2 separate regions of the Homo sapiens genome follow, and region 1 is linked to region 2. Evidence: fine-mapped QTL for protein levels in blood plasma. Region 2 holds a variant in brackets. A gene starts in the other region. All regions are shown on their forward strands.

The links. A credible set is the group of variants that fine-mapping cannot tell apart. PIP is the chance, under the fine-mapping model, that this variant and not a neighbour inherited with it causes the effect. Protein levels are from antibody-based Olink assays in UK Biobank. Linkage for the fine-mapping came from a reference panel and not from the study's own genotypes, which makes the PIPs less certain.
Region 1: it holds the start of SCGB3A2, and the variant in region 2 is the best candidate, but not a certain one, in a credible set for the plasma level of the SCGB3A2 protein (UK Biobank, PIP 0.62).

The regions. Positions count from the first base shown.
Region 1 is chr5:147,873,311-147,888,588 of GRCh38, forward strand. It overlaps SCGB3A2 (secretoglobin family 3A member 2), which reads left to right and starts at 5,401. Exons shown (of 3, transcript NM_054023.5): 1 at 5,401-5,548; 2 at 8,136-8,338; 3 at 8,717-8,881. The coding sequence starts at 5,494. The coding sequence ends at 8,740. It also overlaps a transcript of C5orf46 not described here. RefSeq lists enhancers at 234-899, 900-1,567, 1,568-2,233.
Region 2 is chr15:50,012,934-50,028,211 of GRCh38, forward strand. All of the region lies in intron 6 of ATP8B4 (ATPase phospholipid transporting 8B4 (putative)), which reads right to left. Among named protein-coding and RNA genes, the nearest start is that of ATP8B4, 99 kb to the right of the region's middle. The variant T/G (reference allele first, on the strand shown) is at 7,338.

The sequences.
Region 1 (15,278 bases), not on the chromosome of region 2:
TTTTGAGAACACAGGCTAAGGGAGAAGGAGGAGGAATGGAAGGTGGAAGCTTACCTATAGTGAAGGAGGCAAGCCCAGAGAAAAGAGTAGAGACACGGAGGAGGGGTTGCAGGGGGGTGGTTCTTGCCCTCCAGAAAAGCAGAGAAGGGGTAGGGGCATGGAAATAAGGGATTGGGGCACAGAGATAAGAGGTTGGGGTGTGGAAATAAGCGATTGGGGGTTCTTGCCCCCTAGGAAACTGGGACTTGCCGCTAAGGGTGAAGGAGAAGGGGTTGAGGGGTACTTGCCCCTGCCCCAGGAAAGCGGGACTTGCCGCTAAGGGTGAAGGACCAAGGCAGGCGTCCCTGCGTGGTCTGACACCCTTGAAACGTGAGTGTAAAATCAGAGAGGCGTCCCTGCAATGATTAAACACCAAGGGAAGGCTGCCTTCCCAGTCGGTGACCGGTGCCGGAGTTTTGGGTTCACGGATAAAACATGTCTCTTTTGTCTCTACCAGAAAATGAAAGGAATTGAAATTAAGATAAGGGAGAGACTGAAGTGTGGCGCCAAGATTGAAAGGAGAAAGAGGTTGAGGGATAGTGAGGGAGGTTGGAGAAGAGAGTAAAAAGAGGCCGCTTACCGGATTTGAAATTGGTGAGATGTTTCTTGGGCTGGTTGGTCTGAGGACCTGAGATGGTAGGTGGATCTTTCTCACGGAGCAAAGAGCAGGAGGACAGGGGATTGATCTCCTAAGGGAGGTCCCCCGATCCGAGTCATGGCACCAAATTTCATGCGCGTCCGTGTGAAGAGACCACCAAACAGGCTTTGTGTGAGCAACATGGCTGTTTATTTCACCTGGGTGCAGGCGGGCTGAGTCCGAAAAGAGAGTCAGCGAAGGGAGATAAGGGTGGGGCCGTTTTATAGGATTTGGGTAGGTAAAGGAAAATTACAGTTAAAGGGAGTTTGTTCTCTGGCGGGTAGGAGTGGGGGTGGCAAGGTGCTCAGTGGGTGCTTTTTGAGCCAGGATGAGTCAAGAGAAGGAATTTCACAAGGTAATGTCATCACTTAAGGCAAGGACTGGCCATTTACACTTCTTTTGTGGTGGAATGTCATCAGTTAAGGTGGGGCAGGGCATATTCACTTCTTTTGTGATTCTTCAGTTACTTCAGGCCATCTGGGCTTATACGTGCAAGTCACAGGGGATACGATGGCTTGGCTTGGGCTCAGAGGCCTGACAGTAGCCCCACCCAGGAGTTGACTCAGTGCAACAGGGCAGCTTCAACTCTGGTTTCATCTCCAACCTAACCAATCAGCACTCCTGACTCACTGGCCCCTCACCCACCAAGTTATCCTTAAAAACTCTGATCCTTGAATGCCGGAGGAGACTGATTTCAGTAATAATAAAACTCCAGTCTCCTCCACAGCCAGCTCTAAGTGAATAACTCTGTCTCTATTGCAATTCCCCTGTCTTCATACATTGGCTCTGTCTAGGCAGCAGGCAAGGTGAATCTATTGAGTGGTTACAGTAACAATACCATAACAAAGGCACAAGAAAAGGCTACATGGCTGTTTTAAAATGTAGATTCTATTCTTCTTGTGAACAGATCAGGAGTTGACTGCTGTTGAAAAGAGATTTTAGTGTGCTCAGATCCCAATACAAGGGGCCATGACACACCATGGGGCTGGAGGCACACGGGAAGCACCAGGGTTATTCAAGAGACAGATGGAGTGGAGGAAAATGTGAGCAGGAGTCTTTATTGTGGTTTCTGAAGGAAGACAGGAGAGATGGGGTAAGCAGGTTTTAAATGGGCTAGTGTGAATAATTTTGGTGGGCTCTGGGATCTTGGGGCTGTCCCTAGTTGGTCATGGGGTGATTAAGGCATGGGAATAATGGCCCACAGTGCACAAGCCCAATAAAGGTCGTTGGGGCTTTGGGCTCTGGATTGGTTAATTTGCATATGAAAGGCATGCTCCTGGTGATATCTCTAGGAATTAGCTAGTCCTGGGAAGGGCAGTCCTTTCAAGGTCAGCAAGGCCCCAAGGGGTCAAAACGTTAAAAATACAGAATTAAAAGACATGATTAATACAGTGGCTCAAAACATAGGAAGCCCAGAAGTGAACAAGTCCAAGTATGTTTTCAATTCTGAGCATACCCCCAATCCACTTGTTGTCTTTCACAGCTTTCTATTTGCTTCTTCAACAGCACTAACCACTAGTGTTTTCTGTTTGTTTACATGTTTCTTGCCTGTGTATCTCACTACATTGTCAGCTCCAGGAAGGCAAGAAATTTGCTTGTCTGGTTTTCTGCACTAGTCCTAATTGCTGACACAGTGCCTGAGACACAATGGATACTCAATAAACATTTGTTGAACAAATGAGTGAAAACAATAGTGTTTGATGGTTATCTGTGTATGCATAATATGATTTGCATGTACACACACATACATACTACTATTCATATATGTATATGTATGTGGATATTTGTGGGTGCTTTTGAGTTGATGTTTTTCATGTACATTCCAGTCAAGACTGCATGGCTGGCTGACTACTAGATAGACCCAACAGAAATCTATTTGCCCAGGGGTCTCAGGAATCTCCTGGAAAGAACTTGCCCTCTAGGACCAGCAGAGAAGCCTGATACAGTACCAATCATTTCAGAGGTTAAAAGAGAGAAGCATTTCTGCATGTATAATGCTATATTTCACCTGAGGAGGCCTCGGTCCTATCCCTCATGGATTTATAACTTGGCTTTTATAAGAAGTCAGTTTAGAAACTGGAAAACCTATTTTTTATTGAAAGCGCTACAATATTTTAGGATGCTGTGTCAGTCAGAGTCCAGCCAAAAAGTTAAAACCATACCAAGTGACCACACAGAAAGAATTCAACATGTAGGGTAATTTACAAAGTGCTAGAAATGCAGTTAAAGCAACCAAGCAGAAGATGAATCAACTCTGAGATTAGAAAATGCAGAAAGTTGTTACTCCTTCTAGGTCAGGAAGGACAGTGATGAGAAGGTGGGGTCTAGGAGCTGGGGCCATGCAGTAAAAGCTGGAACAATGTTGGCCTGTGTGGCACAGGGGGAACCACAGATAAAGGACCTTTCCAAAAGGAGATGAGCCTTGGAGAGGGTGCAGCCACTACCCATGATAGCTCCTGAATTGGAGAGAGGGAGACATATCCCTTCTCCTTTTCTCTCTCTCTCCACTCTTTCACCTGTGCCTTCCCCTGGCTTAACTTAATCAGATGCAGTTGGCAAGGAAGCCTGGAAGCAAGGAAGCCTGGAAACCACATTTTAAAAAGTCAACTTTCTATAATACAGAGCCAGGAATGAAAGTGAAGAGAAAGGATTTAAAAGCAAGCAAACAAATTTGAGGGCAGCACTGGTTTAGTATTCCAAAAGAGACCATAATAAAAAACTAAAGGGCGTCATTGTGGCAGGCTGGATCTCCACAAGCAACCAAGTCTCCATAAGCCCTTTGCTGTAATGATGAATGTGTAAGTTAAACATTGAAGAACTAGAGAAACTGGTGCCTGAGTAGGAGACCTGGAATGCAGAAACAAACCCGTTAAGACCCTACCTGGGCTTTCTCATCCTCAAACCTGATTGAGTGATAAAAGCATTCATGCACATACAAACCATACCAGGACCCATGTAAAATTAAGAAACTTTCCAGCCCACAGACCACTAGTTAAAGATTAGATTTAGGCTAAGTAGAAATACTCCTGCATATAGGCATAGAGCTTGAAATTCATTTATATATACTAAAGGAAAAACTCATAACTTTTAGTTGGTCTGGTAAATTACTCCGACCTTCTCCCTGTGGCTGGTTACAAAAATAAACTCGCTTCTTTCCCAGTTCACCTGTATCTCATCATTGGACCACGAGAGCAAGCAGCTGGACCCTGTTCCTCCGGCAACGGCATCAATCTTACCACCAACCTTGGCTCTTTGAGGGGCTTGGTATATTAATATCACTGGCATCAGTGGGAATATGTGGGAGAAATGGAAGCAGTACTGGTAGAGAAAGAAGGAGAAGTGGCAGGATTGAGGTGCATGGCAGGCATTCATGGTGTCTTTCATGTAGTTTATAAAGTAGTTTATAAAGTAGCAGAAAGATAAAGAAATGACAGTTACAACATGGTAACATAAAAATTAGTAAAATGTGACATAAATTAGATATTAATTTTGGTTTGGCATAGCAGAATGCTCTGTCTGCATAATTTTATTAGATCTTCATTACAATACCACACCCTCAGATGAGGACAAATAAAGCCCCAACCTCTGGCCTTACATCTTAAGGTGTGTTTTCTCAAAATTTTCTGGGTTCCACTTTGGTGGTGGGAATGGCTGGAGCCAGCAGTACCACGTGGCCGGGGAGCCCTGAGCTGGTCCTGTGCCCATATGGACTCCGCTTTCTATTTCACCCCTTCATGGTTCTTTCTTACCCTCTTCCTTGCATGTCGGGCCCACTCGATGCCCCAAAGAACTCCAGGACTTCTGCTCACAAATGAAGTTGTCCTGAGGTCCTGTGGCTGAACCCTGGATCCAGAAAGACAGCCTTGGAAACAAATTACTACTCCTGTAGCCAGTACCTTACAATTACGTATTTTTGAATGATTTTATCGGATTTGATTGCCAAAGAATCTTGCAAAAACAATTTTTTCCCCAAGCTACACACCTTATGGTTGGTTGTGTTATTTATGTTCCCATTTTAGATGAGAGGACCAATATCCTAGATTAAAAATGTCAAATCCAAGATTACACAAACAGTGAAAATTGAATCCCAGGTTTTTCAAAAGACACTCTGATTTTAGATCTTAAGCCTATTATTCTATCCAAAGGCTCAGAGAAGACATGCTCTGAACATACTCAAAGTAACTGACACTGGAAAAGGTAACAGAGGTGTGAAAATCTTACCATAGTAGATGTGTGAGTGGGCTGGGGGCAGGTGAATTCCAGAGAAATGTGGCACTAAATGTCATGAAGCTGACTCTGTATTATACCAGAGTGGCCTCCAGATTGCTTTCACAACTGGGTAGTTCATCAGCTAATGTGATTCTCCAAACTTTAAATGATTAGAAAACTGGGGAAAAATGTAGAAAACCAGAGGAAAACACTCCTTCTAATCCAAATATAAATTCTTCACTTCTTTTCAATGTTCTTCCAGGAGAAGGATTCGTTGGGCTCTTTGCCTTCTGCTTTTATTTCTGTGCAAGGGTTTATGCAAGAGGTACTTGAGAATGCTGTACTGTAGAGCTTTGTTTCTCATGGGAACACACGGGGAAGTGGAAAACCCTCCAAATTGTTTGGTGAGAAAACATAACATTTATCCCTTTCTTTGGTGGGGTGAGTCAAGTGGTAGGGACTAGAATTCAGGTCCTCAATGGGCATATAAATATGTGTGTGCAAAAGCAGCCATCACACTTTGTATGGCAAGTGGAACCACTGGCTTGGTGGATTTTGCTAGATTTTTCTGATTTTTAAACTCCTGAAAAATATCCCAGATAACTGTCATGAAGCTGGTAACTATCTTCCTGCTGGTGACCATCAGCCTTTGTAGTTACTCTGGTAAGTAACTGGAATACATCTGGAATATGTGACATTTCTTTACTTTTCTGTTAATAAGAGCACAACTAGTAAGCCTTGCCTCACTGACAGTGGAATATGGTGGTAGGAATTGTATTTTTTTTTATTTTACTTTTAACTGACACATAATAATTGCACATATTTGCAGGGTTGGAAGAAGTTTTGGAATCACAGAAAATGGTGATGTTGGAAAGTATTTCAGATCCCCACCATCTAAGCTCTAGCCCAATATAAGTATTCTAATACATCCTACATAGGAAGTTAGCCAACTTCCACGGAGGGTCAACAAAGCACATTTCACTGCTGGATATTGGTCACCATTCGTTTTTCTTATTTTCCTCAATTTTGAGTTAAAATTTGACTTTATAATTTCTTTTGTGCTTTTGAACTATATGGAGTCATTCTTGCTATCATCTCCAGTTATCCAATTTGCTAGCTTGGTTCTCCTGAGATAGCTACATTCATCTGTTTATCCACTCAATGGATATTTATTGAATGGCTACAATTTGTTGGGCACTGGATAGGCATTGGAAGATTTAGACATGAAGCAGTCATAAATATTGTTCTTAAGGTGCTACTCTGGTAGGATAGATAGGGCTTCTGCCTAAGTTACTATAATTCTAGACTACTGTAAACGTACTGTGAGATATCCAGATAGAACTCTTTTAGTGTATTGGTGGGTGATTAGTTTAATTTTCAGGTAAGGGTATAGAAGCTGGCTTCTTGGAGGAGAATGGGAACTGATTTATTTTTTTGGAAGGAATCATTGTAACTATCAGGAAGACAGTGTGGGCACATGGGAAAAAGAGATTTCATGATAGCCACTGCTCATTGAGAGAACAGAAGGCTTTGAAGATCTTCTCCCAGGAAGCTGTAAACACATACAGAGAAGATATTTACCAAAATGTCTGAAATAAGAAGTATGGAGATTAATAATGAAAAATTGATTGCCGCCCACACCTACAATGGCAACTTTGGCTTTTGATGTTTATTGAATTTCTGAAGGAATTTGTAACTTCACCAGTTTTGGATATTTCACTGTTCTCTAATGTCCAGGGACAGGTATCTATGGGCAAAGTGGCAGCAGAAAGGAGGTGGGGAAAATAAATACCGCCCCCTCTGGGTGAGAATTTTGGAGGGACAATAGGTGATTGAAAATTTAAAAAAATATATACAGGCTCCATTTTAATAATTTGAATGGGGAAATAATAGGTTTCCAAAGGAAAATAAACTATGGCAGGTCTTAGCCAGTAGGAGGATGTGTGTTCTTACGTGTGTGCTCACATGCATGTGTGCATTTATATATCTGCACATGTTTTTGTAAAAAATACATCGTACATATTTTCCTCAATCTCTACTTTTTCCCACCATTCATCTTCTACGGGAAAGTTATCTTCCTAAAGCCAAAGATATAAAACGTAATTTTCCTATGTAAAAGCCTTGATAGCGCCCCACTGCCCTCAGGAAAAAAAAATCCAAACTCCTTTGTGTGACATCCAACACTTTAAAAAATCTGACCTCACTCAACTTTTGCAGCCTCACTCCCTTTATCTTCCATCCTTTGGTCATAGCCTATTGGAAATCTGCACTCCAGCCTTCTGGGCAGAAGGCTCACCATCCTGTGTATGCACTTTTATCCTAATGGTTCCGTGCCTTTATTGGTCATGTTTCTAAAATGCTTCTCCTCTTCTTTACCTTATGATCCTGACATTTGCCTCAAGACATAGCTCTAACAGCACTTCTGGAAAATTCCTGCAGCACTCTTTCATGTTAGAATTAGTCATCCCTTTCTTGTGTTTCCATGGAGCTTTGTCCATAATGTTAGCATAGCACATGCTACACTGTGGCATACACAGATCTTCTATCACCAACTGGACTGTGTGAAGTCTCTGAATGGGCATCCTTGTCTTATTTGTCTATGTATCTGCACAGACTAGATAGAGTTGGTGCTCAATTATGTTTGTAGCGTTGAGTTGAATTGGTTGGGAGCAGTTTCTTGGGCTGTGGTTGGGTCCATTCCTGTCTTTATGTGGAGATTCACTATAGCATCTCTCCTTTAGCCTCAAAGCTGTGAGCTGTGGAGACAGTCACATACAAAATACCATCGCCTTCAGACAATCACAATGATCTGTTGAATGCTTACGCTGCCAGGGTCAGTTGTAGGCATGGGTGCATTAGCGAAAAAACACACATTCCTTGTTCTCATGGAGCCTCCATTCTAATGAGAAAATAAAGACAATAAAAACAGCAAATGAAGAGTTGCTTTTTTTAGGTAATGGTAAGAAAAAATAAATGACGGAGAGTGACTATGGCCATTGCAGGCTTCTCCGAGGAGGTAATATTTGAAGAGAGACCAAATAATGTGAGAAAGAAAGGTAAGTAGCTAGCTAAGGAAAAAAAGTTCTAGGGAGATGGAACAGCAGGTGCAAAGGGCCAGAGGTAGAAGTTTTCAATGGAAGTAAGATGAGTGGATCTGGAATGGAGCTATTGATGGACACAGGGAAAGAAGATGAGGTCATAGTCTGGGCCCAGATGTGCCTGTCTCACCTGGTTTCTCTTTTTCCTGCAGCTACTGCCTTCCTCATCAACAAAGTGCCCCTTCCTGTTGACAAGTTGGCACCTTTACCTCTGGACAACATTCTTCCCTTTATGGATCCATTAAAGCTTCTTCTGAAAACTCTGGGCATTTCTGTTGAGCACCTTGTGGAGGGGCTAAGGAAGTGTGTAAATGAGCTGGGACCAGAGGCTTCTGAAGCTGTGAAGAAACTGCTGGTAACCACAGCTTGGGAGGCTAATCTGCCAAAGGGGAGGCATACTCACCCTGAATGTCTAGCTCCTCTTCTTGTCCCTTGTAAATGTGCATTTCCACTTTACTGATTATATTCATAGGAAGTTTGCACATCCTGGAATCTCAGGAAAAATACAATTTCTACATTTCTGGGAAGGGTTTTTGAATGATAGTGACATGTGTTATAGTTGTGACAATACCATTTACCACCTTCGTGATTTTGGATGAGACGTAATCACTCTGAGTTTTTGTTTCCCCATCAGTAAAATAGTGGCCAAACAGGACACTGGAAGTGAATATGTTTTGAAACATGCGAATTACATGTAAGCTGCTCTAAATTTTGTTGTCCTTCTACATTTCAGGAGGCGCTATCACACTTGGTGTGACATCAAGATAAAGAGCGGAGGTGGATGGGGATGGAAGATGATGCTCCTATCCTCCCTGCCTGAAACCTGTTCTACCAATTATAGATCAAATGCCCTAAAATGTAGTGACCCGTGAAAAGGACAAATAAAGCAATGAATACATTTTCAGTCGTCCTATTTTTATTTCTGGGGACTCTATTCAGAAGGACGTATCCAGATTAGTTTTCCCTTGGTTCATAAACTCGAGAGAGCCTGTTTTTATAAAGAAAACCTGGAATCTTAAGTAAGACATAATCATTCCTTCTCCTTTCCTTATCTCTAATTTAAACATCTCTATTTTTCCCAAATGTTTTATCTCACGGTGTTTTCAGACCCTTCACTTTCCTATCCCCCATCCTAAATAAATTTTTACATTTAAAAAATGAAAAAATAATTTTCAAAATATTGTCTGATAAGACTAGCATCTTACTAACTTCATTGGTTTGGCTTCTGTTTCACTAGAATGCTAGTTCTTAAGTTTGTAGTTAAGCTATGGCCACTCAATAGCTTTCACCAATCCTTCCACCAAGTTAGGCCTTTACTACATCATCCTTAGGCAAATGGGTGATGAACTATCTTTTCTTTCCTTTACTCTGTCATCTACAGTGATGACAGAATTATCTTTCCAAGGAATTATTCTGGTAATATCATGACGGCCTGTAGAGCAGATTTCAAGCTTCTGAGCATGGCATGCAAGGCTGTTCATGATCTGGCTTTTGGTTACACGTCTAGTCTTCTTATCTACATTCCTTTCTTCACATGCGCTCTACTCCAGCCACACTGAACAGATAACTAAATCCTTTTCCCTCTAACACTCTTACACCTTAATGAAAAATCAAGTTTCTTCCTACCTAGAATGTCTGCCACCATCGACCTTCAGACCTGGCCTGTGTCAGTCTTTGGACTGTTTGCTGTCAGGTCCATTTCCTCCACTTCCCCTGTTCTGCTCTGCTCTGCTCTGCTGTGTGTTGAGGCAGGACAGGAAACATGATACTGATTGCTGCAGCTTGCATTTCTCAGGTTCCCAAATCAGCTGACATTTGGGCTAGGTTCTGCCCCTGGGAGGCGCAGGCAGTAGATAGGAAGTAGGAAAAGAGGAAAACTATTGTATGACCCTTTCTGGCTCTGTATTAGGGAGAAGTCTCTGGAAATGACTGTACCACGTCTGAGCTCCAGGTCCTGCTAGATAGGCCTGCCTTGGTCCCAGCTTTTGCTGGGTGAGTCCAGCCTCTGGGCTCTGGTTACACCACCTCCTTTCTTTTTCTCTCCAGCTGAAGTTAGTGGTTTCCTCCTGTTGTCAGTTTCTGGGTGCCTTACCATCACCTACTTGACTTTTAGCTCTTCTAATGTCTATTCAATCAATTCTTTGCATTACATTCCTTCTGTTGTAAGTACTTTGAGTAGTTTCTGTTTCTTAATTGGTTTCTGACTAAGATGATGTTAAATGTTATCTCTAGGGATATTATCTTAATTTCCTTCCATTGCTTGACTTCCATTTTTTGGCAACTAAAATAGCTTTCACTCTGTGAAATTTCCTACTTTATTTCCTTATTTTACCTATGCCTATAATGATAGATTAGGTTGCCCAGCTGCAGTAATAAATAATCCCAAATCTCAGTGGCTTACGTGCACAGTGTGTCACTTGTTCCTCACAGTATGTGGCCATCTTTGGTTGGCTGTAGCTATGATCAATGTTTTATGAATTCTATACAGGAGCTGATGGAATAGTCTCTCTTGTGCATTTTGCTTATGTTTACAGGGAAAGAGAACTTGGTGAACAATGAGCTAACTCTTAAAGCTTCTTCTTAAAAGTGAAGTATATGACTTCCAATCATGTTTAATTGGCCAGAGCAAGTCATTTGACCATGTTTGACTTCTTTAGGAAGGGGATGTATAATTATCCTATAGGAAAGAGCAGTGCCAAATATGATTAATGTAATGTAATTGACCACATTACTTGATGACTTCAAAGTAATTGTCACCTTAGATGACTCTCATACTTGCAATTTTCTTTTCTATTGAATTACATGCCATCTTTCCGCCTACCTTAGTTTTCTGCTATTTGACCACTATTTTTCAGTTTCTTTAAATGGCCCTTATTATTTTTGACTTCCCTTGGACATTGATACCTCCAAAGATACTAAACTTGATTCCCCTTCTATTTTTACTCTGTGTATAACCTTTATTGGAGAATCTTATGTACTACCATGGACGCCAATATAATCTTTATGTTAGGAACTCTAAAATCTATGGCTACAATCTATACCTTTTTTTTTTTTTTAAAGAAGAGATTTAGTTACCTATAAGACACCTCCAAGGGATGCTCTTTTTTAGGTTCAACTCAAACATTTTTACCTGAACTCATTGTCTCTCTTTCAAAACCCACTCCTATGTTTTAATTTGCTATTCAGTTTACAGCACAGACATTTTAGTGGTTGCCTGAGACAGAAACTTGGGAATAATCCTAAGTACTCTCTGTCATCAGCCTCCTTTCTGATTGGTAAGCAAGCCTTATCAACCCTTTTCACAACTATTGCACACATTTTTCATGATCACCACTGGTACTGTTCCTAAAACTTACTTTCTTTCTTTCTTCTTTCTTTTTTCTTTCTTTCTCTCTCTCTCTCTCTTCTTTCTTTCTTTCTTTTCTTTTTTTGAAGTGCTATAGTGCCATCACAGCTCACTGCAGCCTGGACCTCCTGGGTTCAGGTGATCCTCCCACCTCAGCCTCCTGAGTAGCTAGGACTATAGGCACATACCATCATGCCTGGCTAATGTTTTTTGTATTTTTTTAGATACCATGTTGCCCAGGCTAGTCTTGAACTCCTGGGCACAAGCGATCCTCCTGCCTCAGCTTCCCAGAGTGCTGGGATTAGAGGCATGAGCCACTGTTCCCAGCTGCAGATCTTGTCATTTCCCTTCAAACTACTGTGTTAATCTCTCAAGTGACTTTTGTATTCCCAAAGGTCCCCTTCTAATCCATCATCCATACACAGAAGGAGACTTCCTAAAATACAGGAATTATTCCCCAACTTCAAATTCATCCATAGTTTTTTAATGCTGATTGAAAAAAAAAGAGTCAGACACTATGTTAAATCAATAGACACATTAATAATATAAGTTTAAACGTATTTGTTTTCATACTTATTTCAAAGTCTCTTTTCTAGACTGTCAAGTTAAATGGTTAGTGACTCTAATGTACATGTCTGTATCCTCAGCACATCGCACAGAGCCTGAAGATAGTCGGTGTTGGTTCTGTTGAATAAATGGGATTGTTTCTGTTAAGTTGTATCTGATTGGGTTGGCCCCTTTGTTTTGTTCCACTAGTCATATTATTAAGCCTTTCATTGCTCTCTCTCTCCCAGTGTTTTGCATATTTGAGAAGGATGCCTCTCTATGTCTTCACTAAGGTATTAAATGGAAAAGATTGGGGATAAAGTTCTCTGCCATTGTACTCTGAGTAATAGCAGTAATCTGACAGTTTACTGGGTTGGAAGGTTTTTTTTCCAGGGGTGTATCAAACAGAGGGATTAAGAAGGAATCTGGGGACAAATTATGTTTGGGAAGGCAGGCAGAAACTGATGATAAACATTATCATAAAAGTGACAACACCAAATGCTGGTGAGGATGTAGACAAGCTGGATCACTCACACATTGCTGGTGTGAAAGTAAAACAGTACAGCTACTCTGGTAAAATAGTTTGACATTTTGTTAAAAAACTAAACATGCAACTACCATAAAACCCAGCAATTGTACTCTTGGGCATTTATCCCAGAGAAACAAAAACTTATATTTATGCAAAAACCTGTACACAAATGGTCATAACAATTTTATTTTAGTAGCCAAAAACTGGAAACAACACAGTTGTTCTTCAGTGGATGAATGGATAAATTTTGGACATCTTTGTAAAGAAATACTATTCAACAAAAAAGGAGAACAAACTATTTATATACACAGTAACCTGGATGCATCCTTAGAGAATTATGCTGAGTGAAAAAATGTCAAACCCCAAAGGTTAAATTTTGTATACTTTTATTTATGTAACATTCTCAAAATGACAAAATTATAGAAATAAAGAACAAATTTGTAATTTCCAGGGGTTAAGGAGACGATGGGGGCAGGAAGGAAGTGAGTGTGTTATATAAGAGCTGTATGAGAGATCCTTATGAGGACAGAAATATTCTGTGTTTTACCTGTATCAATGTCAGCATACTGGTTTTGATGTAGCAGCATAGTTTTGCAAGATACTACCATTGGAGGAAACTTGGTAGAAAATATGCTGGATTGCTCTGTATGATTTCTTAAAACTTCATGTGAATCTATAGTTATCTTAAAAAGTTTAAAAATTATTTTAAAGATCATCAGAATATAGAAATATATACATATAATTATCATATAATCATATGGAATATAATTAACATGTTATATATAATTATATACAACTATAATTATGTATAACTGTAGTTACATATATGCATATATGTAACTTTCATTCTCTTCATCCATAAATTCCACAAATTAGAGGAAACCACTGTTCACATTGATGTGCTTTTTTCAAGACATTTTCTAAATATTTACAAACATACATGAATGATACATTGCACATATGAATGACATATGCCTTATTTAAATTGTTATCTATGTGAATATTAATTTAATTTATATAATGTATATTATATTGTTTCTAATATCTAATTATATTTTTTGTTATTATAAAAAGTGCTATAGTGAGCATGCATATTTTGCATACATTTTTGTCTTTATGTCTTCAGAAAAACCTTGAAAGTGGAAATGCAAGGTCCAGAATTACATGGTGTCTAAAATTTTGATAACTAGTCACACATTTCAATGGGGAAGAACAGTTGGTATCTCAGGTGACTGAGGTCGGAGAAGTGCCATTTCCAAAGATGGGATTAGGGACCCAAGACAATGCCTAGGGTATGATTGTTCTCCCTAAGCTAGCTGTAAATCCCTTTTTATTATGTGCTGGAGGGTCAAGCCATGCAAGGTATGAATTATATGATTTCTTAGTTTCATGTCTAAGATAGGCAGTACAACCAGACAGGTAAGTACAATTTATTTGCTACATTATTTTTTATTTTAGAAAGCAACCAGATGAAGAGCTCGCAGGCTATTGAGGCAGATTAAAGACAGCAGAGGGCGCTCATTATTAGCAAAATCAAGGAAAACATTTGTGTATATATGCAAGGTAGATAATGAGAAATATCAGCACCTTCTATTGCATTAAATTTTTCACTGGGGATTCACAACTAAATGGCAACTACCTGATGCTCCCCCTTTCTAGTAACTACCTCTGACTTCATTTCAAGCATTGTTAAATGGTGCATTCTTTGTTCTGTCCTTAACTCTCTCATTATCAAATGAGAACTTGTTTTCTGATACTGACAATGACCATAATAACAGTGATAGCTATTGGTCATTCATTGTTTCCTCCATATATTTTCGATTCAGCAAATAATTATTGAATATTAGTTGCAGGATCTTTGCTGGACAGGAAGCATACAGTAATAAATTGTCATGACCCATATCTCCATAGATTTCACAGTGTAAAGGGAGAGATAGAAACCACACAAATAAACATGGGTAAAAGGATAATTATAAGTTATGATAATAACAATAAAGGAAAAGAATAGGATCCTAAGAAAGGTCACAGTGACAAGAGATTGCCTGTTTATTTTAGGTCATTTCTATGGACATGCCAAGTTGGGACTTGAGGTTGGAAGAACCCATCTTAACCAAATAATATTCTGTGTGGAAGGTACTAAGTGCATGAATATCCTGAGGATAAGGAGAACTTGGCTTCTTCAAAGAACTGAAACATCACCTGTGTTTCAGTGCACAGGTGGCAGCAGGAGCACAGGGACACAAGCCAAGGTCAAACCATGCATTAGGTGTCATGGTCATGGCCCTGTATTTATCCTAAGAGCCCAGAAAAGCCTTGGGAAATTTTGTATCCAATGTTCTCCATATACCTGAGTGGCAACACTGCATATGCAACCATATCCACTTGCATTAGTCAGACTCCTACGAGTCATTCCTGATACTTCCCTCTCCCTGACACGTCATGTAGAACTAATCACCATGTCCTGTCAACCTAATGTCTTAATATTCTCTTGAATCCTTCCACATGGTTCTGTCTGCATTGACCCTCCCTTGCTCAAGAGCTTTTGGCTGGCTTCTTGCTTTACTCTGGACCCCTCTGTCTAGCCTGCACAACAGCCAACTGATATTTTTAAAATGCAACAATGATCATATGTGTTCCAATGCTCAAAATCCTTTGGTGGCTTTCCATTGTTCTTGGATTTAAGAATAAAATCCTGACCATAACCTATGAGGTCCTGTAAGACTTACTTTCTTCCTTCTTATTTGCTTTCCAGCCACCTTGACGTTTCTTCATGGCTAGAGAACAGTATACCTAGCACAGGGCTTTTGCAAATGCCATTCACTCAACTATAAATGCCTCTTCTCCTTCATTGCCTTATGAATTTTGTCCTATTCA
Region 2 (15,278 bases):
GAGATACATCTAATGAGCACTAAGGATCATAGCAACAGAAGTACCCAAACTTGCTGAATAAGCATAAACTGATAAAGACCTATAAACAAATTTAAATAATCTATATTTTGAATCCAATCATTTTTCTTGTCCTACCTACAACCACCACCACTGACAATAATACATAAAAAAAATCCCAGCAGAACTGGAGGGTCAGACAAAATGATTTGCTTTAAAACTCATCTTCAAAATATTTCTAGACTTCTAAAATTTTAGCTTGTATGGTGATTGGGTTTTGTCACCAACTTGAAACATGAAAGCAGACACTCCCTGGCTCTACATGTGTGATGCAGCTGTTCTCAGGGTTCATGTTTAAAGCAATCTTGCACCATAGCTCTTCTAGGGGGACATAGGATGGCCTTTTGGGCTGTGAAGGTGACACTGGCTCCACAGACTCAGCACCTTCAAACTTTGCTTTTGCCATTGTCAAAAGGTGAAAACTCCTGTAGATGAATTGCAGTATATGAATATTCTGAAAAGAAAGGAGAAGTTATAAGATTTTAAAATGTGGCTCAATTTTCAGCATCATATAATTATTTCAGAGTATAAAACTCTGACATAATCTAGTTAATGCTTCTTAGAATCCGTTTTTTTAAATACATATGGGATAATAAGATAGCCTTTACCTTAGCAAACTCACAAGTCAATTGCTAAATAAGCCAAAATCCAAGTAAAAAATTCATAAAATTTAGATTCCAAAGGCACCATAAAACATACGGAGTTTAACTGCCACAGAACAGCAACTAGAATTATTTGAAGCAAATTTTTTAAAAATATGCCACTATATATCTACTCTCAGAACTCTGAGTTCTAAGAAAAGGAGGTAAGAGATAGCAACTGCAACTAATAATTTTTGATAAACTGGTCTGAACCTGCTTCTTCCTGATGAGGCATAGCATACTAAGAGCTGCTAGACTTCACTGAAAATCTCCTTGAGAAAATGCAAGTCTGAGAGTGAGGTAGCACCTATCATGCTCCACGTCACTAGACTATTGCTTTCAGAAGCTGAAAATCAAGTGTTGACCTTAAGGAACACTTTTGGAAGCAATATTGCAAGTGCATTGCTAAAGCTTGAGAAACAAAAGAGGGGATTTTCAATGGGTTCATCAAGGTCATCCTTTCCATGTTCTAATGCTCCTGATTTCCCACCAGCAACATGGATTCCTGAAAAGGGGATTTCCTCACAAGCTACAGAAGTGTTGGGGTACTAGAGAGAGTAGATAATAAAGGTCAATATAATTGACCTCCCCAATTAACCAATCAATCCACTTAACCCTGAGCTTGGTTTCTTCTTTAATCTCAAGTACATGTCAGCCTTATAACACTCAAAAGTATTCCCTTGCTCATACACTTTTTTTGTTCACCACTCCATCCTGAGGACTTAGAATAATACCTAGTTCACAGCAGGCACTCAGTAAGTATGCAGTGAATGAATGATAAATAAATTAAGGAGTATAGAATCATTATTTCCAAAAACATTTGCTGAATGATAGCATTTGCCTGAATGTCTAATAAGAATTATAGCATCCCATGTTTATTTAGTGCTTACTGCATTCCAGGGACTGTACTGATCCCTTCATGTATAGAGCGCCAAATAAAATAAATAACACCTCAATTAAATTTGAATTTCAGATAAACAACAAATTATTTTTAGTATATATTCCATGAAATATTTGGGACACATTTATACAAAAACATTATTATTGTTTATCTGAAATCCAAATTTAAATAGAGTCTTATATTTTAATTTGCTACATCTGGCAACACTATTCATGTATCTTATCTCATTTAATCCTCACAACAGCCCTAGAGATAGGTATTGTTTTGACTTCCATTTTACAGAATAGGACACTGAGGTTCATAGAAATTGAGATCTTTGCCTTATTTTGCAGTATCTATCAAAAGTTTAAATGACCACACACTTTGAAAACTGATCCTACAGGTACTCAAATATGAATGTACCAGGATATTTATTGCAGCATTATTTGTAGCAGAAATTGATTAGAAGCCACGAAAATGTCCATCAATAGGAATTAGATAGATGTACAATGAAACACTTACTTAATCATGGTTCATTCACTCAATGGAATATAGTGCAGCCACTGAAAAGGATAAGGTAGGTCTATATGTGCTAATATGAAATATGCTGTAAGTTACATTATTAGGAAATGTAAAAAGAAGTAAGTGCATGTAGGATATATTATACATTTTTATAGGCATAGAAAATTTCTTGAAAGATACACAAGAAACTACTGTGGTTGACAATAGAGAAAGAAAATGAAGAGGGAAATTGGGATGGAAGAGAGACTTCGTTTCCATTTTACGTTCTTTTGTACTGTTTAAATTATTTGGCATTACACATATTAGTATTTTAATGGCCAACTGAAAAGAAGAATAGAAGCAGAAAGAAGTAATAGAAGAAAACTTGGCCAAGGTCACATATAAGTGGCAGGTCTGGGACCAGAACCCAAGTTTGTCTGGCTACAAAGCCCATGCTCTTAATACATCTATATTTATTGTTGCTTTTTATTTCCCAGAGTAATTATGTATTACCTATATAGAAAAAGATTGGACCCTAAGGAGCTGAAAGGACCCAATCATGGCAACAGTGCACACTCCCAGCATTTAAAACCAGTTGATCCAAAGACAGCTTGCAATCATGATCCCCTGACACAAACACTCAGTGGACAGCAGCAGTTTCTGGTTCTTTTCAATCCCAGTACCATCAGAGCTGCGCTAGAGGAAAACATACAGCTTGGCCCTAATCCCCTAATAACAGACTGGTGAACAGGATCTCACTACGTTGAGAATGAACATAACGCTCATATCTTTGGAATCTATTTATTTTAAAGAATGCAGATGTTTCCCTTTTTCCTCCATTCTTCTTAGCAAAATGCTTATGCTGAGGCAAAATCACACAGGGAGGTCTCTGGTCAGCTGCTGAAGATGCTCTCTCACCAATTTTGCCAGGGAGGAGGGTGAAAATAAGAGATGATGAAAGATGTAGTGCTATAGCATGGAGAATTTAGTTTAACAATTTGCTGAGAAAAAGTAATCAATCTTACAGATGCCCTGCCTAATTTATATAAATCCTATTGTGCATTATTCAGATGCAGAAATAGACACACAATTTAGTCTTCCTATTTTGAAAACAAAATGATCAACTCACTAAGTTTTACCTGAACAATAAGCCTGCTGAATGTTTTACAGGAAATGTATTCTCTTTCATCATTTTCCTAAACTGAAACCCTTGCCCAAATGAGCCTCCTAAGACTCTATCTTCTGTAGATTCTTAGTAGGATTCTGTGAATAGATGGCTATAGATTATGAAGACACAGGAATTCAGAAGAAAATGATTTCAAAGAAAGACAATTCCATCTGTTCTCCCTTATGAAAGCTAGAGGAACTATCTTAGATTGACCATGGAGAAAACAGAGCTATTGGTCTAGGTTGGATTCCTGGGTAGTAGATTTAGAGGGAGCTTTATGTATAAGAGGTTGATTGGCAAGTTCTCTTGGGATTAACACCTGTAAGAGAGGAAAGAAGCACTGCTGGACAGAGGGAGCAGTTGGGCTGTTGATGTAGCCACAATGAAAGCCACAGCCAAGACCACGGAGAGCTCTGGAGCTCTGGAGCTGGAACAGGCCTTTACAATAGGATCAAGGGGACCAGGACTTTATACCATGGCATGATTCAGTCATTGGATGCAGGATGACCCCAGAAAGGAGGAGTGTCCTTAAGGAAAACACTCTCGTCAGCCAAGGGCAATTCCCAGAGAGGACTGCCAGCTGAAGGTTATATGTGGGCAGCACTCCTGACAGCTGGGAAAATATGTTCTGCAGTCCTAAGGGGGGATGTGGGTGGCACAGCAAAACATCCACTACAAACTGAGAGCCCATTCCCAGCTTTGCTATCAATATCTTCATGTATTTATAACATTCCCTTGAGGGGCAGTGGGCAGGGGAGGTCTCACTTTGTTGCCAAGGCTGGTCTTGAACTCCTGGCTTCAAGTGATTTTCCCGCCTCAACCTCCCAAAGTGCTGAGATTACAGGTGTGAACCAATATTCCTTTTTTAATTCTAAGCTCCACCTTTCTATCATTTCAATTTCAATACTATAAAGTTAATGCAGGCAAGCTGCCATGAATCTTTGTGCTTCCCCAATCCAAGTTTAAAACTTCTGGGGAAAACAAATCTGTAAAATATTAGGTCATCTGATTCACCTCCTTTGCCAACAGTACAATAAAGTTGGGAGATACATTTCTAGTACCTATCTATTAAAAATATTCTACAGATAACCACCGACTATCTAACTATCCTAAGAACAATGTCTATAGGAAAAAATCACTGTTTCTGAAATCTTTCTTATATGAAGAACATATTTTGATTTAAAAAATGTACAATCACCTTAGCCCAAGTAGATCAACTATTTTCTTCATCTAAGTGGCCACATATTATTTTGAAAAATCAGAGAATTCACTCTTACTAAGCTTAATAGCAAATAATTATCCTCTTTTTGAAAAAAACAAATACCCCAAAAGAAGATAGTTTCCAATGGAAAAGAAAACCTGGATATCTTAGTTCCAGGATAAAAGGCCTATGTTATATTTTTTCATTGCCTCTAGTGATAGTCTCAATCAATTTGCCCATATAGAGCCAAGTGAAGAGATAACCTAATGTCTCTTAAACCAGAAAAAATATTGGCTGCCTTACATGTCAACTAATAATACAAGCCATAGCAACACAGACAAAGCGAAAGTGTTGCTCAATGGTGTGATGTGGTTTGTTCTGGCCAGAAAACCTAACATTCTGGAAATAGCATTTCTGATTTTACAGCACAAAGTACAATTAAAGGTATCACTGGAATATCAGGAGTTGATTTACTTATTAGGTTTGCAGTAATACTGTCCCAGAACTTTTTAAGAAAATTTCAAGATGTCACTTCAAAATAAGTTGTAATGTTTATCATCCCTAGTTCCTCAAAAATGGGATAGCACATAAGTCGAATTCTTTTTTTTTCTTTTTTTTTTTTTTGAAACGGAGTCTCACTCTGTCATCCAGGCTGGAGTGCAGTGGCACCATCTTGGCTCACTGCACCCTTGACCTCCTGGGTTCAAACTATTCTCATGCCTCAGCAGCCTGAGTAGCTGGGATTACAGACATGCATCACCACACCTGGCTAATTTTTGTATTTTTAGTAGAGACAGCGTTTCGCCATGTTGGCCAGGCTGGTCTTGAACTCCTGGCCTCAAGTGATCTGCCCGCCTCAGCCTCCCAAAGTGCTGGAATTACAGGCATGAGCCACCAAGCTTGGCCCTAGAATTCTTAATGAGTTCATCACTGGCATATGCGGTATCATCACCCTGCATTAATGAGTTTAAGACCACTCTTATGTGTACAAAATGACCCCTCTAATCTAGACACCATGCTGAGTGTCAGAGCTGCAAGTGGAATCAGATACAGACTGTGGTTATCAAAAAACCTGAAGACTAGTGGAAAAATATAAGTCTGGCTCTTAAATAACCACAACTAAACTATCTCTGTCTTCTGATACCCGGAGTATATGGATATCTTCCCGTCAACAATGAAGAATACCTGCACTTCAGAATGACCTCAGTGTTAGATTGTTTGCCATATAGCTGTCATCAAAAGTCCAGTGAGAAAACTGATAGACCAGAAAGATTGTCTAATAAAGGATATATTAACTTTCATTTCTCAAGATATTCCAAGCTTTGTCCCCATAAATGGTGAGCTCATCCGAAAACTATATGCCTGGACTGTATTATTCTGGTCCCTCTAGGCTTGTCTTCTCAGAATCATAATTTAACATCACGTCAACAGATTTCAGTCAGGATTTATTTATAATCATGGGTAAAATATCTCTACTCTCTGAAGCTTCGACCATTATGTCACTTACATTTTTCTCAGGACCAGGATAAATCTTCTTCCTTACAATTACCAGAGTACTTCCTGTCATTAAACCCTCAGCTTTGTACCTTCAGCACCTTCATTATGAGGAGAAACAAAGTTCGAGTCAATGTAAATCCATGAATGACAAATCTTGATCGGTCATTTAAACAAAAACCAGGAAATTTTATAGTAAGACTCTGTCCCTGTCCTTTGAGGATGACTTTTTAGGAACAATCTTGACACTTGCAGAAACCAAATTCTGTTGAGAATGGGCCAGAAATTGGAATTTAAATTTTACACCTTTAAAGAAGAGAATATTGGCCCCCTTGTTTATGAAGGAAATGATGTAGCATAGTAGAAGAGTACATGTTGTAGAACTGGAAAACATGCACTTGAGTCAAAGCTTCAGAACCAACCAGCCTTCAGGCAAGATATTGATTGAGACTGGAATTCTCTGCTATGACCTACCAAAACCGGCTCTTATCAACCCCTCAGAATGTCTTTATTCAGAAAACTGAGGTCTTTGAAATGCCACAAACCCACCTAACATTTAAACACCTGTCTTTCATGACATTTTTTACTTTCAGATGAAATAGATTCATTAAAGCATTTTGTAAACTGTAAAATAATATATACATTTAAAATACTGTGACTATTTTTTATTATTATGAAGCACCTCATTATAAGGATTGTACATTCTGATTTTGATTTCAAGTCTTCAAAAGAGCTATCTGCACTCACTTTCTCTACTTCTTGACTGTCCATGCTTTCTCCAATCAGGATTTTGTCTCCATCCTTCCAACTGCAATCTCTCTGGTCATCCTGTATGTTACTAAATCCAATGATCAGTTCTCAGTCTTCACTTTATTTATCACAGTTGGCCACCCCCTCTTTCTTCAAACCTTTTCTTTGTTTTAATTCCAGAACATCCAAGTAGTTTTCCTCTTATTTCATTAGTCACTGCTTCTCACACACTTAGCCAGCCCTTTCTCTTTTGCCCATCTTCAAACTTTAGAGTGCCTGAGAGCTAGAGTTCCTCTCTCCACTATGTAGGGCCCAGAATCTTCATCCAAGGTGGCCAAATGACTTTTTTTTTTTTGAAACAGGGTCTCTGTTGCCCAGACTGGAGTGCATGGCATGATCTCTGCTTGCTGCAGCCTTGAATTTCCAGGCATCAATCCTCCCTCCTCAGCCTCCTGAGTAGCTGCAACTGCAGGTGCACACCACCATGCCTGGCTAATTTTTATATTTTTAGTAGAAATGGGGTTTTGCCCATTTGCCCAGGTTGGTCTCAAATTTCTGCTCTCAAGTGATCTGCTTGCCTTGGCCTCCCAAAGTGCTGAGATTATAGGCATAGGCTACTGCAACAGGCCTTGGATGAGTTTTTTG[T/G]TTTTTTTTTTTTTTAGATGGAGTTTTTCTTGTTGCCCGGGCAGGATGGAGTGCAATGGCACAGTCTCGGCTCACTGCAACATCCACTTCCCAGGTTCAAGCAGTTGTCCTGCCTCAGCCTCCCAAGCAGCTGGGATTACAGGTGCCCACCACCATGCCTGGCTAATTTTTTTGTATTTTTAGTAGAGACAGGGTTTCACCATGTTGGCCAGGCTGGTCTCAAACTCCTGACCTCAGGTGATCTGCCCGCCTCAGCCTCCCAAAGTGTGATGACTTTTAAATTATATCTTCAGCCCACACCTCTCCCCTAAGCTTCAGTAATGCATTCCTCTACAGAATGACTAATATCTTGATAGAATTCTGGTTTCCTAGACCAGGCAGAAAACCACCACCACCACCACATGCTTCTTCCCCAGTTTTCTCCATCTTGGAACCTCAGCCAACAACTAGGTTTCCTGATGCCTCTCTTCATACCCACCCAGTACACCAACATATTGCCTCTGCCCTCAAAATACATCTCAGTCTGTGGTTATTAGGTGATATTTATTAAGGTACTACTGCTATTTTGTCAAATGTAGTAATGGTAGTATGGCTAAATATATGTAAATCCTTATATGTTCAAGATAAATACTAAAGTATTGATAGATAACAGAATATGACATACAGGATTTGCTTTTAAAATACCCCAGAAAATAAAATAATAAAAATTGATACAAAATAGCAAGAAGTATGCAAGTATACAAGAATAGCAAGTTGCTGCAGCTATGTAATACATAGAAAAGGATTCATTGTACTGTTCTATTTGTGTGTGCATGTGTGTCTGAAAATCCATGAGTGATGGTGATTATGATAGATAGATAGATAGATAGATAGATAGATAGATAGATAGATAGATAGATAATTCTACTTCTGTTTATGTCCTTCACTGCTAACACTCATGTCCATGGCATCATCATCATACCTGGACAAGAGTAGAAAACAAAATTTGTCACCGTCATTCTGCTCTTGTCTCTCTCTGCTGTCTACTGTCTACACAGAAGCCAGCGAAATCTTTTTATTGTTCATATAATTTTCCTGCTGAAAACCCTCCAGTAGCTTCTCATTACATTTAACATAAAATTGGAATTCTCTATCACTACCTCTAGGAATTGGCTCTTGCCAGCCCTTCAGCACTCCCCTTTATCACAATACTCTAGCCACAGTAGACATCTTACTGTCAGGTTCATTTCCACCTTGGAGCTTTTATACTTGTTGTTTCTTCTACCCAAGATCTTGGCATGGCTAGCTGCCTCTCAGTTCAAATATTACCTCTTCAAGGGGCCTTCTCTGGTCACCGTCTTTAAAATCATCTCCCCATCTCCCATCCCATCACTCTCTATCCTATTCCCCTATTTCATTTTCTTTGTTGTACTTACAACTACTTGAAATTATATTATTTATTTACATTTTGTTTATTATGTGTCTTCCACACTAGAATGTTGTTCACTAGGGCAGGGATTTATCTGGCCTCCTCATTTCTGTATCCTTAGTACATAGGAGAGTGCGTGGCACATATTAGGGGCTCAATACATATTGGTGAAGGAATATTTGAACAGATTAGCTATTTATGTGATCACTCATAATGTGTGCATAGCATATTTAGTTCTAGAGCTGACACGAGTAATAGTTTCACAAGGCTATGTCTCCTGGGAAGACCCTAAGAAAGTGTAACAAAGCTAATGACAAAGTCTGGAAAGAGGGTAAGGACAGGATGAATCATTGTAAGGCAAAGGATATCAGTTTAGACAATAAAAGAAATAAATAAAAACTTTTTTCCAAAGGAAAAAAGTGGAAAGCAAAATTGCATATATTGCATGGGCTCTTTTGCATATATGTATATTTGCCACAAAAAAATGCAACAACAAGGGATAATACATTTCCCTAAAAAGTAGACATTTTTACTTTTCTGAGTTTTTCACATTTTTAGTTGATAAATTTTAGATAAAAACTCACTTCTCAGAAGCCTCCTTTGTTCCCCAGACTGGCCTAAGTACCCCTTCTTTAGTGCTTCCGTTGAGGTCCATCAACACATCCATCCTCCTATACATTATATTGAAACTAAAAACTTGGTTGTCTCCCTGCCCTACAAACTGTGAGTTATGAAAACAGAAATGCTACGTTAATCATCTTTGGCACATGGGAGATACTCACTATCTGCAGAAATAAGATAGACCTAAAGATTCCTCTGGTTCAGAGCACCCATGCTATGTCTGCTCTTAACAATGCTGGGACAATAAATCAAATGACCCCAACAAAATTGGCTGTATTATTGAGGCTTATCACTTTTTCCAATTCAAGCCAATAGGATTAGAGTGTAAGCAGGAACTGCGACACGCTCCCCTGGCCCAACCTATGACATGAACTAGAGTGCCCCAAAAAATCCTCTATTTCTAGACCCGTCAGGTCTGGGTAAACCTGGCCTCTGGTGAAGGTCCTAAATCTGTTTCCCCATGCCCCGCTGACCACAGTAAGTCCCTGGAACAGGGGAAAGCCTTGGGCTCAGGGATGGTATATCAAATGGCAGTTGCATTTCTCATATTTTAGGAATGAGATGGATAAGAAAGACCTTCTAATGTAATCCCTTCATTATTCATTGGCACTACTCAAACCCCAAAGTCTCTAGGTTGTTTTTCTACTCCCTGGATATATCTATATGATAATTTTTTGCCTGGAGTAGACTCCATTTTTCTCTATTAGGAAGATGAAAACTTTCTGCCAGAAAGTTGCCCTTTTAATTACTTTCTGGGAAACACTCTAAGTTATGTGCTCCACCCAGCTCCAGGATGAAGTTTTTCTGCTTAATAGCAATGACAGGCTGGTCTCATACTCCTCCAAGCCCTCTCTGCTTTCTAGTGATCAAGGGGTTTCAAGACCTTATGGTCTTATTTATAGTCTGTAAAAATATGTCTAAATATATGTATAAATAATCTTCTCTCTTCTGAATTCCTTTCTTAATCACAAGAGCCACTACTGGGAACGATATTTTCAATTTGGTTAATCAGGAGATTTCGTGCCAGGGATCGTGACCATAATTAGGTACATTTGGGTAAAACTTTTATTAGTTTGACATTATCAGTACCAGATTTGAAATTTAACACAAGCAAATCTGCAGGCCAATTATAAGCATTTATACCACAGTCCTTTGCATATTTGTTTGCATAAACTCTAATCCCTACATTTTTAGGCATCTATTACTCTAAAATGCTCCCTATTTAATAGGGCCTCTGTTGCTTATTGTTTTCCTATCATTCTTTTTATCTCAATTCCAGTGTTCTTTCTTCTTCATCCTTAGAAAGAGAGTAAGAAATGAGATACAGAGCAAAGACAAAATTTAGAATACAGAGAAAGCAAGAAAAAAGAATCTAAAGACAGCCACCAAAACAGAATGAAAGGTGTCCCTGGTAACCTAGTGTGGAAAGCATGACAGCATCTCTTCACCTCTGCACCCACAAAAAATTGAGACCAAAGGCAAAAAAAAAAAAAAAAAGAAAAAAAAGAAAAAAAAAAAGCCTTTTAAAACTATAATGAAGGATCAGGTGAAAAAGAGAAAGACTAATAAAGAAAATAGGACATATGCTGAAAAATATTTCTCAAAATGAGAAGTGATACTCTAGTACATTAGTTATCTGATGGGGTGCAAATTAAGGAAGCCATGTACCTTTTCTCATTTTTTATTTGTCTTATTCTTACTGGAAAATTAGGTTCTATTATTTTTAAAAATATTAACATATTATCACTCAAGTTTCAAAGGAAGGATTAAATGAATAAAAGTAAATTCCCATAAAAGTTATGCATCTAGCAGTTTAGCTATGGTTCTGTGACCCCAAAACTTATTTCTAATAAAGCAAGCATTTGCAGAGCTGAGTTCTCACAGTGGTTAAGTCTGGATTTGTCCACCCTGGACAGACGGAGAGAGTAAACAGATTCTATGATAGAGGTAGGTTATTTCCAACAGATACTTAATAACTGAGCCTAGAAAGAAAAAAACCTCAGCTCTTCCCTTTTGGCAGAGCTTTAAATTTTTTTTCACATTTTGAAACTATTTACAGTTCATATGGTTTCCAGACCTACTCTCCAAAACCAAGGGCATCATCCCCTGCCTGGGTCTCTCAGTGCTCCACATGTGATTTCTCAGGCAGCCAGCCAGATGAGCATTTGATTTGAAAATGAAGCCTTAAATTTAGCAGTGTGAAAGGGGAAAGCATGTAAGAACATAAATGCCTGGAAAGGGGCAAGGTAACAGATGAGGACAGCTGGGTGAATACTCTTCGTCGTCCAGGCAATTCAGAAAGTGCCGCTGCAAGGGAAACGTCCACTGCAAACCCCAGCAAGTCTATTTCTGCTTCTCCACTGGGTGTCTAGGGCTGCCTGTCACATTTTTGCTTGTCCAACTTGCTGCAACCTGGGGGCAGCTGCGAATGAAACAGTAAGCATTGCTTCAAATCATATCTTGAGCTCTGCTAATTAAGAAATGAAGTCCAGGCAGACCTAAATCCTTCCCTTTCCTTAAGTGTCAGACACTGTCCCATACATGTTAATTTCCAGCAGTGCCCAAGAGACTCCCAATAACACAGAACACTAGGGTAAAGATGGGCTTGGTATCCGAGGACCTCACACTCTCAAGTGCAATGATAGCCAGCAGCGATGTGCACAAACACACAATATATGAATACTTCTCCTTGCCCCATATTAGTTACAGGGAAGAAAAGAGGAGTCTAAAATATATTCTGCTTTTGCCCCAAGAGGCTTTATTTAATTCACTTTAGTGCATTTTGCCCACTATCATGTAATTATTGCGTATCAACTGCATGGGAATATGGAGATTGTCTCAGCCTCAAGTAAGTCACAGCAGTAATAGGAACAGACAGACAAGTATAGCAATAGGCAATTAGCCTCTCCCCATATCTATCTTGACCCCTCTGCATTAGCTTCTTCCCATGCAGCAGGTATGAGATTTTCCAAAGACAAACCCTTCCACACAATCTCTCTGTTATGAGGAAAAAGACCCAAACTCTTAATGTAGCCTTGAAGGCCCTGCAGGGTCTGGCCTCTGATGGCTTCTCCAGCCCTGTCTGCCCCTGCTCTTCTCTCCGCCTTATTCTCTGGACTTCTGCCAATCAGTCCCTCATAATCACCATCCTCCTTCCCCTCCACAGGACCTTTGCACATGATTTTCCCTCTGGAATTCTTCTCATCCCATTGCTCCAACTCCTATTACCACCTTTGCCTAGTTAACTCCTAGTCATCATTATGTTTTCAGCTCAAATGTACTACTCCCTTAAAGAATCCATTCCTAAACTGCTTCACCTCACCTCTACCAACCCCCACAAAAAAATACCTGTCTTTAGAACCACACTCTTTTCCTTAGCAGCATTTGCCTTGGTTTGTAATTATACACTACTTAGCATGGCTATTTTATTATCTACTTCCCTGACCAGACACTAAGCTCTGTGATTGCAGAGAACATGTCTGTTTGGGTTGACCTGCATTTGCAGAATATAGCTCAATGCCTGGCACACAGGATTCACTCAATAAAGATTGACAAGTAAATGAAAGGTAAGGAGACCATTATGATACTATGTGTCATGATATAATAGAGTGCTATTATCAAGACAAAGAAAGATGGTGGGAATATGATCAGGACATTACCCTAGTAGCCTCATGCTTTGAATTGTCTCCTGACACCTTTTGCTACAATTTCTTCCATCTGGAATACAATTTATCTCCACTGTTGGAAGACCCGATGATTAAAGTTCTTCTTCCTTACCTAATCCATTTTGTAACTTTCAGATCCTACCCTCCTTGTTCCACTGTCATCTCTACTACTATTACTATCAAATCCATCCTCATACTTTCAATATTCCATTTGCTGTTAAATCTTTTTATCAGGTGGAGTCACTGACTCCCCTTCTTTGGCTCCTCACCATCACACCAAAGCTGAAGAGGATCACAGAGTCACTGTACTTAAAGCCTGAGAGGAACCTTGAAATATCTGGCCTAGTGGTACTCAAACTTCAATGTACATGAGAATCCCATGAAGTGCTCATTAAAAATAGAGTCCTCAGTCCCAGACCCAAAAAGTTTGATTCAAGAGGTCCGGGAAAGAGCCCAGGAATCTGCACCTGGGTGATTCAGATGCAGGTGGTCCTCAGACCTCATGTGCAGAAGTACTGACCAGTGCTGTGATGCTTGTGGAGGCTCCTCAAGATCTACCATAAAGGGTGAGAGGGCAGCCGAGAGCACCTGCTCTGAGCAACTGCACTATACATAAGATTTCATTTGAAAAGGGTTCTGCTTATTGGAAAAAGAAATGTTTGAAAATGACTGGTATCCAATATCTTTGTTTCATAGATGAGAAAACTCAAGTCCTTGGTCCTCAGTCATGTAGCCAATTCATGACAGAGCAGGACTGAACCTCAGCCTCCTGACACCAGGCTAGTGGACTTTTCCCAATGCCTTCCTGCCTTGTGGGGTAGAAAGACAACAGAGGTTCTCACTGCTGTGTTGCCCAAGAGTCTTACAATGAGTAGCCTGCATATGAAGATGGTACTTGTGACGGACCACATTGCACCAGAGCACATAACTGGAGGGACAGGAGATGGTGGATTTGGGCTCATTTTTCATCCAGCATATTCTCAGCCTCCCTCTTCAATAAGCCTGTAAAGACCTAGTAATCCTCTATGGCCTGAACTGTTCCTGGGTTCTCCAATGCTCTCCCCACCCTCTCACCCCACCATTCCATTAGCTGTTCAATGGCTGACCTTTGCTGGGGGGCCAATTCTATCAAGGGTTATTCTGAGACAATGAAATCCCTGCCACTAGCCCTCCAAAACTAGTATTAGCCATCCCTACCCCATATGTGTGCACCCAAAGCACCCAGTGCACCTGGAGCACCTCATACTTCCTTGCACCTACTGCTGTCAAATAAGAGTCTGTTTATTTGTCCATCTCTTCCCCTAGACCCCAGACTCCTTGAGGGCAGTGACATGGGTCCTAATAGTCCATGTGTCCGTAGCATCTAGCACAGTGGCTGGTACTCAGAAGTGTTATTTAAATATGGGATGGATGGGTGGATGGATGGATGGATGGATGGATGGATGGAAAACATGAATCCCTGCTGCTACTCTCAATGTTCCTATAAAACCTCTATCATATCCCTGAGGAAGCCCTAGTACATGCTGATTGACACTGAGCCAGCTAGATTATCTGAATGAAATTCGTCCCGTTGCCAACAGAGCCCCTTAAATCTCCACTGCTGTTTGTGTGCTCTCCTCCATGAAGCCCTCTCCAAACTCAATTCCATTTCTCAATACTTAACTTTTTTCTTTCCCCCTGCAACTCCATCATACTGGACTGAACACTGGACATTAAGCAAATTTAAAATCCAGTAAGTGTTTATTGTGAAGGAATGCTAAGCTTATGGAAAATGTACTTTATTGCACCATAGACAGTAAGTTCTCACTTAACGTCGTGGATAGGTCCTCGAAAACTATGATTTTAAGTGTAATGAAATGTAACAAAATCAAGTTTTTCCTCACCCATGCTATAATGAAATGACTTTGAACTCAACAACGTTATTTGAGGACCTACTGTATACTGTTTCACTTGAAGTCACAGTTTCCAAGAACCTATCAGCAATGTTAAGTGAGGACTTACTGTATTCTCCATTAGAAAATACCATCAACTTTCTTCACATCTTCAAAATCTATTCTTTCTCCATCATTAGAGTCCATTACCTTCCTTCTACAATATTCAGTATCACTCTCAATTATATTTCCCAGGCTTCCTCATCTCACAGCTCTTCCACAATGTCACTGCCAGAGTCTTCTTTCCATATGTTGCTGATGATGTTACTTTTTACAGCCCCCAAATTTCCCAGGTCCTTTTGAGTCCTTAGATCTA